Linked DNA regions of Homo sapiens: region 1 is linked to region 2. The links come from fine-mapping of genetic effects on gene expression. A gene starts in region 2. The other region holds a variant in brackets. All regions are shown on one strand. Distances are from middle to middle.

Region 1 (5,373 bases), 54 kb before region 2:
GAGACCAGCCTGGGCAACATAGCAAGACCTCATCTTTAACTAAAAAATTTTAAAAAGTAGCCAGGCATGGTGGTGCATACCTGTAGTTCTAGCTACTTGGGAGGTTAAGGTGGGAGGATCACTGGAGCCCAGGAGGTTGAGGTTGCATTGAGCCACAATCACACCACTGCACTCCAGCATGCGAGACAGAGTGAGACTTTGTCTCAAAAAAAAAAAAAAAAGATGTAAACTTTACATAAAGCTGTACTTTGCCAAGACTAACATGCCTTTGGAGATGGAGAGGAACCAAAAGCCACAGCAAGCAGCTGGCAGGCTAAGCCGGGGCATGTGGCCTCCTGATAGTCCCTACCTCTGCGTTCCTCTTGCTCAGAGAGCAGTGTTTCCATGCATGGGAGGTCCTTCATAGCTGCCCTCCTTTCCCTGAGGGAGAGGCAGAAACACCTTGTCTGTCCCCCTAGTCCTGGTATGATCAATGCAGCCCTGTCCCAAGGAGGGGCACCTTGGGAGTCAGGTTGCCCTTAAACTAATCTGTGAATACTTCTGTACAGCCTCTTGGCATTCAGTTTTGTTCTGCTGTCATTACTAAAGCCCTTCCTGATACCTCGTCCGTCCTCTCTTTTCTGGCTACTAAGAAAGGTAACGTACAAAGCTTTATCCTTTCCTAGATGCATAGAATCCCGCAGCTGTGGCAGCACGCCCATGCTGGGTCTCTGACGAGCATGGTGTTGCTCGTGTCTTTTGTGGCTGAGGGGAATACTGCATTTGTACTGGATGTGTTACACAGTCTGCATTAGCTTCATCCAAGAAGCTTCAGCTTGAAGAGCCAGATGTTTTCACCTAAGACTTAGTTTGTTGCTATCAACAGGTGCTTGTACTATTTGGCAGAGCGGTAAACATTTTCCCTCTTTCCTACCTCCTGAATTTCTTCCGGGATCATAAAATCACACCGAAGATGATGTTCATCATGTGGTTTAGTGGTAAGTCAAATCTTGGATAAATGGGGTGGGGAAGTACCTGTTAAAAGCACGCCCCATACAGGGAGAGCTGTGGTTCTCTGCTAGCGCCCTTGGCAAAACCACAAGTAATCAATACTCCCGTTTAATGGCACCCACTGCAATCAAGATGGTGCCCCTCACCATGGTGCTATGAAGTGGGTGAGGCTTGGTTGGAAGAGGGCAAACAACATGCCCAGGGTCACGTGACCACTGGAGGCAGAGCCGGGATTTCTGCCACTCTCTTCTGAACACCATAGTGCAGTCCGGGATGCAGCTGGGCGTGCTTCAGCGCCTCCCTGGGGGTCTTCTAGGCTGAAGTAATAATGGTCTCAAGGTAGAAAAGGTGAAAGTTGAAACTGTTTCATACCTTATGTTAGTTTTGGATATTTTTCCTTTTAGTCACAAAGTTCTAGTAGTTTAATTTGAATGTTTCAGTTGCTATTTAATCACTTTTTAAAGGACGGAAATGATTTCATACATCTTTGCTTCTAAAGAACTGGATCCATAGGCATCCTTAAATTTATTTTTGAGCAATACATACTGTTCTTTATGCTTTCTTGCTTAAATATTATAATCAAAGTATTTTCCGTGTGGGTTGGGTTATAGCAACACACTATAATGTTCTCTATCCAAAGGCATATCTGCAAGTTTGTCTCAGATTTCTCTTCTTTCAAAAGGCCATGTTTAAAAATGTATATGTTTCATATATATGTACGTATGTGTATATATACATATACATTTATATGTGGTGAGAAAAACTCATTTTTTTCCTAATCTCTTTTGCCAGTGAGGCAAACTACTTTGTAAATGGTTGCAGAAGTGTGTCAGAGGTTTTTGAAGTGATGTGGGCTATTTGGGAAGGGGGGCATGAGGATAAGAGAGCGTTATGGGGAAGGTTGGAGTGTATTTGAAATGGCGGGGGCTGTCGGCTCCTGTTCTCTCCCAGGCTCCCCGGGCTCTTGCTCTGTGGGTTTCCATCCAGGCTTTCCTGGATCCTCAACGAGGGGCACTGAACAAGCCTCTGCTACCGGCCCCTCCCATCATCATTTAAGCAATCAGAGCTTCTCCTCCTTCCCACAAAACACCAGCAACTTCAGCCAGAGTTCCTCCTCATGTCCCCCGCAGCTG[T/C]GTCCGCACCTCTTTTGCCATGGCCAGACCCTTGCGAGTGAGCCGTGCTCGCTCATTTTCTCCACTTCTTCACCGCCTGTCCACGGGGCTGGAATTGGCCTTGGCAGGTCACCAGTGACCTCCCGCAGCCAGACCTGGAGGGGAGGCGTCCGCCCCCGTCCTAGCCTACCTCCTTCCCACTGCCCCTACCTTCTGGCGAGGACCACTTCACTCTCTTCCCCGGCCTCTGGGCCATGCTCCTCCTTTCTCTCCTTTGACGTCTCCTTGGGCTCGTCCCCCTTCGCTGACCCCTCAAATAGTGGCTTCTTCAGGACTTGGCCCCAGCCCCACTTCTGTTCACGTGTTCTGCACTTCACTGAGTGCGCTCACCCGTCCACTGGCCTTCACTTCCACCTAGTCCCAAAGCTGTTCCCGCGAACCCAGACCTCCCTCTGGGATCCGTACTCCTGTTTCCAGCTGCCTGTTTGGATGCCGTGGGGATGCTGTCATCCCTATGCCTTTGCATCCCCCTTGCCCAAGAAATCCTACTTTGAATTGCCCGGTGGCCTGGCTAGCCGGTACTAAGCACTTGCTGGGTACACACCCTGTTAAAGCACATTACATGTCCCGTGTCACTGAATCCTCTGGCCCGTGACAGGTTTAGAGAGGCTGAGAGTCCCTTGTCCTCACCATGTCTCTGTATTATGTGCCCTTTGCTCTTGCCCTGCCGTCTCCCCATCTGGGTCTGGCCTGCAGCAGCCTGGCTGCCCTACCCCATGGTGATGTGAGCCTCCCCGCTTTCCTGTCTGGGGAAGGTCCTGGTGCTGTCTGCACCATGCCCCCCCCCACCCCCCACCCCCCTCCCCCCACCATCTCTTCCAGGTAGCATTTCACACCCCTTATTTGCTGTGCCTCCTCCCAGCTGCTCTAGGAGCTCCCCAAGGGTGGGGCTAGGACTGCCTGTCCCCTCCGTATGGCACCAAGGAAGCCAGGAAACTTCTAACAGAGGAATGTGCTGTTTTCCAGCTCAGTCCATGCCCCTCAGTTGTGCCCTAGTAGCGTCACAGAGGACCAGCCAGCCTGTCATTACCACCTAAGCAGCCCACAGCCCCATCAGTGCCACCAGGGGCCTCCACAGGGACAGCATCTCGAGATAGGAGGGGTACTGGACACATTGCATCTTGTGCTGTTGTGGGTATTAGTTGAGTGGCCCTGGGCGGGCCATGCTGCTCTTGGCCTCCATCCCTCATCTGTGTGTTGTGGACAAGAGTAGCGCTGCTCGGTGAGGATTCCTGTGAAGATCCAGTGATGCTCTGCACACTGAGCACCTGCCCAGGCCTGGCGCACACACAGGGAGGGCTCAGCCCACAGCAGCTGTCCTGCAGTTTCCAAGACACGAGCATCAGGCTTGCTAAGTCCTCCCGCACCCGCATCTGGGGCTCTGTAGCTGGGGCAGGCCATCTCATTTGATCTGCCAATGTTGGAATGGAGGTGAGTCTGTGGTCCCATCTCTGCCACCTGCTCTTTACACCCCAAAGCCTCACAGGGTGAGCACACACTCTTCAGCAGGGCCATTAGAATAGTCAGCTGGTCGTGGTGCTGGGCCGGCTGGATTTCCAGGGAAGCCAGCCCATGAAGCTGCTGCCTCTTCACTGTGTCCTCTCACACTGTTTGCTGTCACCCAGGCCTGCGGGGAGCCATCCCCTATGCCCTGAGCCTACACCTGGACCTGGAGCCCATGGAGAAGCGGCAGCTCATCGGCACCACCACCATCGTCATCGTGCTCTTCACCATCCTGCTGCTGGGCGGCAGCACCATGCCCCTCATTCGCCTCATGGACATCGAGGACGCCAAGGCACACCGCAGGAACAAGAAGGACGTCAACCTCAGCAAGACTGAGAAGATGGTTAGTACCATGCGCCTGTGGGGGTGGGGCAGGGGGCTGGCCTGCTACGCAGCTGGTGGTCCCCACTGTCAGGAAATGGGGAGATGAGCCTTGCTTTCTTGCTTTGAGGATGCCCAGCACCTCCACACACACGACACACACACACACACACACACACACACACACACACACACACGACACACACACACACACGACACACACACACACGACACACACACACACGACACACACACACACACACACACACACACACACACACACACACACACACCCCCCGGTCATCCCCCCTGAGAAGGAGGTGACGGAACTTGAGTTCTGAAGCATGGCTCTTGGGGTGGGGGTGTCTGGTGGCCTTGTGACCTGCCGCAGCCATGGGGGCTGTGGACGACCCCATCTGCTCCCTCTCTGAAGCTCCATGGGGCACCACAGGAGTCTGGACCTGTGCCACAACCACAGCAGTGCCTCTGCCCTGCCAGCAGCTGAGACACCTGTCAGGGCCCAGGTTTGAGGGTTTCAAAATCCTGTCATTCCCCAGTATGGTTTTACTAAAAACCACCTGTTGGGGGCCTGAGGAGGGGAGGATGTCTTGCGGTGGCTGTGAGGGCCGTGAGAGGGGTACTCCCCCAAGGACAGACATGGTGTGGGGCTGGAGGTACCCAGGCCCCAGCTGTAGGGAGAGCTGAGGTTCTGCAGCCTGCCCACCTCTTCTTCCTACAAGCCACCGCCCCTGCCACCAGGCTGCCTTCCCGCCCTGTCTTCACCCTCAGGACCCCTGTGCAAAGCTAGGCCCTCTGACCGAAGCAGAGGCTGCTGTAGGCTCCAGCCCAGAGCATCCCCTGCTGATCACCATGCATTTCTGGACATGCATCTCTTTCTAGTTCCCGTATTCTAGGCCTCAGTAACTTTAATCAGTCATCAGAGGCCCAGGAGTCCTCACGTGGCCATCCACGGCTAACACTGGAGTCAGGGCTGGCAAGACCATGGCCTCCAATCTCCATGCTCAGCTGGGCCCCTCACCCAGTGCAGTGCTGCTGGGAGGAAACTTCCAGATGGCTGTGAGGCCTGGCTCTGCAGAACTTCCACCACACTAAGAGGCCCTTTGCCCCCACCCCCTATCTACCAACTTTTTTGTTTTTCACAAAAGCTCTAGCTTAGGCCTTTCTGGGTATCAGAATCGGTGGGGGGCTTGCTACACACAGGCTGCTGGGTCTCACACCAGCATCTCATAGGTATGGTATGGGGTCCGAAAGAATTTGTGTTTCTTCTTATTTATTTTTGAGACAGGGTCTCACTCTATTGCACAGGCTGAAGTGCAGTGGCGTGATCGTGGCCCACTGCAGCCCAGACCTCTTGGGCTCAAGCGAT
Region 2 (5,373 bases):
GGAGTTTGCAACCAGCCTGGGCAACACAGCCAGACTTCATCTCTACAAAAAGAGACAGAAGAAAAGGAGAAAGAGAGAAAGATAAGAAGGAAAGAAAGAAGAAATAAAAGAGATCATACCAAATATCTTCTCCAAGCACAATTGGATAAGGCTAGAAATCAATATGGGGGGGTTAAAAAAAAAAAGAAATCAATATCAAAGGAAAACTGGAAAATTCACAAATTTGTGGAAATTTACACACTCTTAAAAGAACCAATGGATCAAAGAAGAAATCACAAGGGAAATTAGAAAATACTCAGAAACAGGCCAGGCTGGGTGGCTCACACCTGTAATCCCAGCATTTTGGGAGGCCGAGGTTGGCGGATCACTTGAGGTCAGGCGTTTGAGACCAGCCTGGCCAACATTGTGAAACCCTGTCTCTACTAAAAATACAAAAATTAGCCAGGCGTGGTGGCAGGCACCTGTAATCCCAGCTACTTGGGAGGCTGAGGCAAGGGAATTGCTTGAATCCAGGAGAGGGAGGCTGCAGCGAGCAGAGATTGCACCAATGCACTCCAGCCTGGGCGACAGAGTGAGACTCCATCTCAAAATAAATAAATTAATTAAATAAATAGAGAAAATATTGAGAAACAAATGAAAACAAAAACACAGCATGCCAAAATTTACTGGACACAGTGAAAGCAGTGCTCAGGGGAAATTTTATAGCTATAAGTGCTTCAAAATCATAGACAGAAAATTGCCAGGGCCTGGGGGTATGGGGATGGGAGGAGGGAAGAGGAAGTTATTGTTTAATGGGGACAGAATTTCAGTTTCAGTTTAGCAAGAAGACCAGAATTTTAGAGATAGCTGATGGTGATGATTGCACAATATGAAATGAATGTACTTTGTTGTTGGGGTTTTTTTGTTTTGTTTTGTTGTTGTTGTTGTTGTTTTTTGAGAGGGAGTCTCGCGCTGTCGCCCAGACTGGAGTGCAGTGGCAAGATCTTGGCTCACTGCAAGCTCCGCCTCCCAGGTTCAAGCCATTCTCCTGCCTCAGCCTCCCGAGTAGCTGGGACTACAGGCGCCCGCCACCACGCCCGGCTAATTTTTTGTATTTTTAGTAGAGACAGGGTTTCACCGTGTTAGCCAGGTTGTGTTTTTGTTTTTTTTTTTTTTTTTCAGACGGAGTTTCGTTCTTGTTGCCCAGGCTGGAGTTTAGTGACTGTTGGAGTGAGTGAGCCATCTTGGCCCACGGCAACCTTCGCCTCCCAGGTCAAAGGCTTTTCCTGCCTCAGCGTCCTGAGTAGCTGAGGCTACAGGCATGGGCAACCACGCCTGGCTAATTTTAGTATTGTTAGTAGAGACGGGGTTTCACCATGTTGGCCAGGCTGCTCTAGTACTCCTAGGCTCAAGCGATCCGCCCACCTCGGCCTCCCAAAGTGCTGAGATTACAGAAGTAAGCCACCTTGCCCAGCTCCTTTGTATAAATAAATGATATTGATTTTCTTCTTGCAGCTCAGGAATTAGATCTGTTATTAGAATTTGCTTAAATTTAAGAAATGGCTGGGTACTGTGGCTCACCGCTGTAATCCCAGCACTTCGGGTTGCCGAGGCAGGCGGATTGCTTGCGTCCAAGAGTTCGAGGCCAGCCTCGGCAACACAGTGAGACCCGCCCGCTCTCTGCACCACTCCTTCCCCCCCTCCTTTCCCCGTCTCTACAAAAAATACAAAAATAAATAAATTAGTCCGGCATGGTGGTGACTGCCTGTGGTCCAGCTACGCAGGAGGCTGAGGTGGGAGGATCGCTTGAACCCCGGTGGTCGAGGCTGCAGGGAGCCATGATCGCGCGCGCCACTGAACACCAGCCTGGGCGACAAAGCAAGACCTTGTCCCAAAATAGATTAAATAAATAAATAAATAAATTTAAGGAAAAAGCAACTTGATTCGAAGATAAATAGTGATAGTGCAAGTGGTGCCGAACTAACGATAAATTTGGAAAACAGCGGCCCACGCGCAGAGCCCGTCCCAATTCTGGCAGCCTTTGGATTTGGCTTCCACGTTTTCCAGATTTCCCTCGGCCTCTAGCTCGCTTGCGTCAGAGGGGCCCCGAGGGGCGGCCCACCCGCTAGCCCCGCCCCCAACCGCTCACCGCCCCGCGAGCCCCGCCCCCTCGGCCTCCTCCTCATCGGCCGCCGTTGCGCGGCGCAGAGCGGCAGCAAGATGGCGGCGCAACAGCGGGACTGCGGGGGTGCTGCGCAGCTGGCGGGGCCGGCGGCGGAGGCTGACCCCCTAGGACGCTTCACGTGTCCCGTGTGCTTAGAGGTGTACGAGAAGCCGGTACAGGTGCCCTGCGGACACGTGTAAGCGGCGAGCCCGGGCCTGGTCGGGGGGCGCTTAACTGGGAAGGGAATGGAGCCGAGGAGCGAGATGGGTCTCAGGGCGGGAGCCAGAGGACCCACCCAGAGGGGCCTCCCGGGGGTGTCCCCCGGGGCTCCTAAGGGCCGTGAAAGCTGCCGGGGCGCTCTTCTGTCCCGCCCCGCTCACTCCTAAGTATCCCGTTCCTCCGCCCGTCTTAGCGGGGCAGCTGCTGTCTGTTGAGCGCCTGCGATGTTCCAGGCGGCCTGTCAGTCTCCTTCCCACACGTGATAGTGGACTCGTGCCCTGCGGGGACTTTAGGCTCCGAAGTCCGCCCTTGGAGAGCCGACGTTTCCTTTCTAGTCCACGTCGCTCTTAAAGCATAGGACATTTGGCGTCGTGTCTAGCTGTGGCGAGTTATTCTACTGTGCACTAAAGTCGGGAGAAACGCTGAACTAGACTAAAACAACAAAAGGGAAGTCTTTATGGGGATCTGGCCAGTTTGCCCTTAGCTGTGAAAGGGGGGTGGGAGTTGGCAGATGGGATTGTTAGCATTCTACTTCCTGTGTAGGAGGTTTGTTTCTTTCAGTTTTCAATTAAGCCTTCATGACCTGAATATTGTGAATAGAGTGGTTATAATGATTAAAGCAGATATGTGTATAAATGTCCAGTCCAGGTCCTGGGCTGTGGCCGGGGCTTTCGAGGTTGGTCAGGTTGGTCGATTTGAATCTAAGCCTTGTTCCATCAGACGCACAAACACATCTGAGTTGAAAGAATTGTAGACAACGTGGCCACCTGCTTCTTGCCTCAGAATTGGCTTTTCCTCTGGCCCCTCTCAGTGCTTATCGTGGGATCACCTTGGCATTGGTCTTGGCAGCGGGCACAGTAGCCATTGCACTCCATGGGCATTATTCTATAGCCACCCTGCAGCGGGGGAGGGTTGGCAGCCATTTTACAGGTGAATACACTGAGGGTCCGAGGCTCTCTTAGGGAAGGGTCACCGTGGCCTAGCTCTTCCCAGATGTACTGCAGGTGACCATTTCAGTAGTCCAGAGAACAGTGCTTGGCACCTAGCTGGCTGCTTTTTGCTTCATCATGTTGCTTTAGGCTATTCATCTTTGCAATTCGGTTAGCCTGGAACTCTTCCCCCCACCCCTCCCTTTTCAGGCTTCAAGTCCCAGGTTAAGTTACCTCACCAAATACCATCCCCATCTAAATTACTTCCCCCACTTCCTTTCTGGGACTTAACTTCCTTCTCCTTGCTTGCACAGAGCAAAACTTAACAGCTCATGACGGAGTGGCCATATCTTTATTGCCCCTGAACTGACTGGAATGGCCTCTGTGTGCCAGATTTTGGGGTAGACTCTGCCTTCAGAGTTTACAGTCCAGTGAATTGATTATAAATAAGTACCAATGACTGGTCAAACTATTGTAAAAATTCATTCTGCAAGTGGGAGGGTATTTCAGGGATCACACCTCTGTGCGTGGGGTGAGTGATCAGGTAATGGTTGAATGAACTAATAAGTCGTGTAAGCAAGCTTCACGAGAGTTGAAGTGGTCTTTAGCTTTTTCATTGAATCCACTTATCCTTGGATCAGATTTACCTGATTTTGGATTAATTCAGTGGATTTCATTTACTATTAACATTTGTAAAAAGGCTAGACCCAGCACAGTTTGCTAAATGAAGAGCAGCAAAATTTGAGATTTTCTTGAGCTTGGTGAACCTTTCCTAGGTCAGAGGGCAAGGAACAGTACTGGTTTTCAAACCTTGGCTCTTCTCTATCCTCGCTGTCCTAGCCCCACGTGATCAGCAGTTCAGTGCAAATTGAAGACAGATGGAAGCACCTCTGTGAGGGCAGCCCAAATCCCCGCTAGCTCCAACCGACTGCTTTCTCCTGTGCCTAGTTGATTTTTACCTTTTGTGCTTGGAAAGTTGAGCATCACTGCAACTCTGGCTGGGGCATTGGATTTTTATAAAACTTTATTTCAAGCCCTGAATGACTGTGTTCTCCAATCTGGTAGAATACAGCTGGAGAAAGGCAGCTGGCTGGGTGCCCAAGAGAAGGGAATTTCTTCCTAGCACTGTGACGGAGTGGAGCATCGGAAGGCTGAACTAGAAAAGGGCGCATAAGTAGGAAATAGAAACTGAAAAGCCATCCCAGGATATTTGAGTTGTTCAAAAGCAGGCTGGTAGTTTGGGCATGTCTCAGGCACAAAGTGACTCGTGAACATTTGATAGATGAGCTGTACCTGTGTGTGTGCTTGAGAAGAGACTTCGAGCTGCTTTTATCTGCATGCTGGGTTTGGTTCCATTATACTCACTGGACCCTCTGTGCTCTCTTGGGTTCCTCTTGTCATCTGCCTTTGTGAACAGGCAACACAAGTGATGGCCACAGGCCCTGCCTGTCTCTACTGCCTCATCACTTGCCCTTCTCACCATGGTCTACCGCATCATGGCCCCCAAGGTCTGCCTGCCTTCCTTTCCAGTCCTCATTTGTGTGTGGCGTGATCTTGGTGTGGAGCTCTGCACCCAGATCTGTGTGGCTGTCCTCGTAATCAGGTCCCACCCAGCTCAAATGCCAACTCCTCAGAAGCAGCTTTCTATGATCACCCCAGCTGGTCTGTTTGCCATATTTCCTTCATATTTTTAATCACTATCTGAAATTAACATTTGTGTTTCCCTTCACTCTAGAATGTAAGCATCATGAGAACAGGGCTTTGTCAAGTTTCCATTGCCCTCAGTGGTGAATGAATAGACTCCCTCACCTTCTCTGTACCTGGTCTGGAATTTTGCCTAACAGCATTAACATCTAACTTAATGACAAGGAGGAAGGAGATTCTTAGAGGCAGTAGAAAATGGTCAAGTGTTCAGAAGATGGCCTTTCATTATATATCTTTAGTTCTTTCTGGCAGATTTGGTTATACTGTCTTAATCTATCAGGTTGGGTAAGTAGCCCAGGGTGTCTTCTCCATTCTTTCTGTATGCCTTATCTCAGCATTACCATCTTCCTAGGCTTCAGGATAGGAACTCGGTCATCT

Direction of the effects. Positions count from the first base shown, and alleles are read on the strand shown. Sizes are in standard deviations (SD) of each study's normalised expression.
With allele T in place of C in region 1, the expression in Th1/17 cells of the gene that starts at base 2,184 in region 2 is higher (large effect, 0.90 SD a copy in Schmiedel 2018).

The links.
Region 1: its variant is fine-mapped to the expression of RNF114 in Th1/17 cells (Schmiedel 2018, PIP 0.91).

Annotation. Positions count from the first base shown.
Region 1 is chr20:49,880,059-49,885,431 of GRCh38, forward strand. It overlaps SLC9A8 (solute carrier family 9 member A8), which reads left to right. Exons shown (of 16, transcript NM_015266.3): 13 at 866-977; 14 at 3,788-4,008. Among named protein-coding and RNA genes, the nearest start is that of MIR12122, 19 kb to the left of the region's middle. The variant T/C (reference allele first, on the strand shown) is at 2,124.
Region 2 is chr20:49,934,214-49,939,586 of GRCh38, forward strand. RNF114 (ring finger protein 114) reads left to right here and starts at 2,184. Exons shown (of 6, transcript NM_018683.4): 1 at 2,184-2,339. The coding sequence starts at 2,200. RefSeq lists silencers at 1,385-1,464, 2,031-2,220, 2,679-2,973, 3,259-3,553, 5,179-5,373 and an enhancer at 1,833-2,438.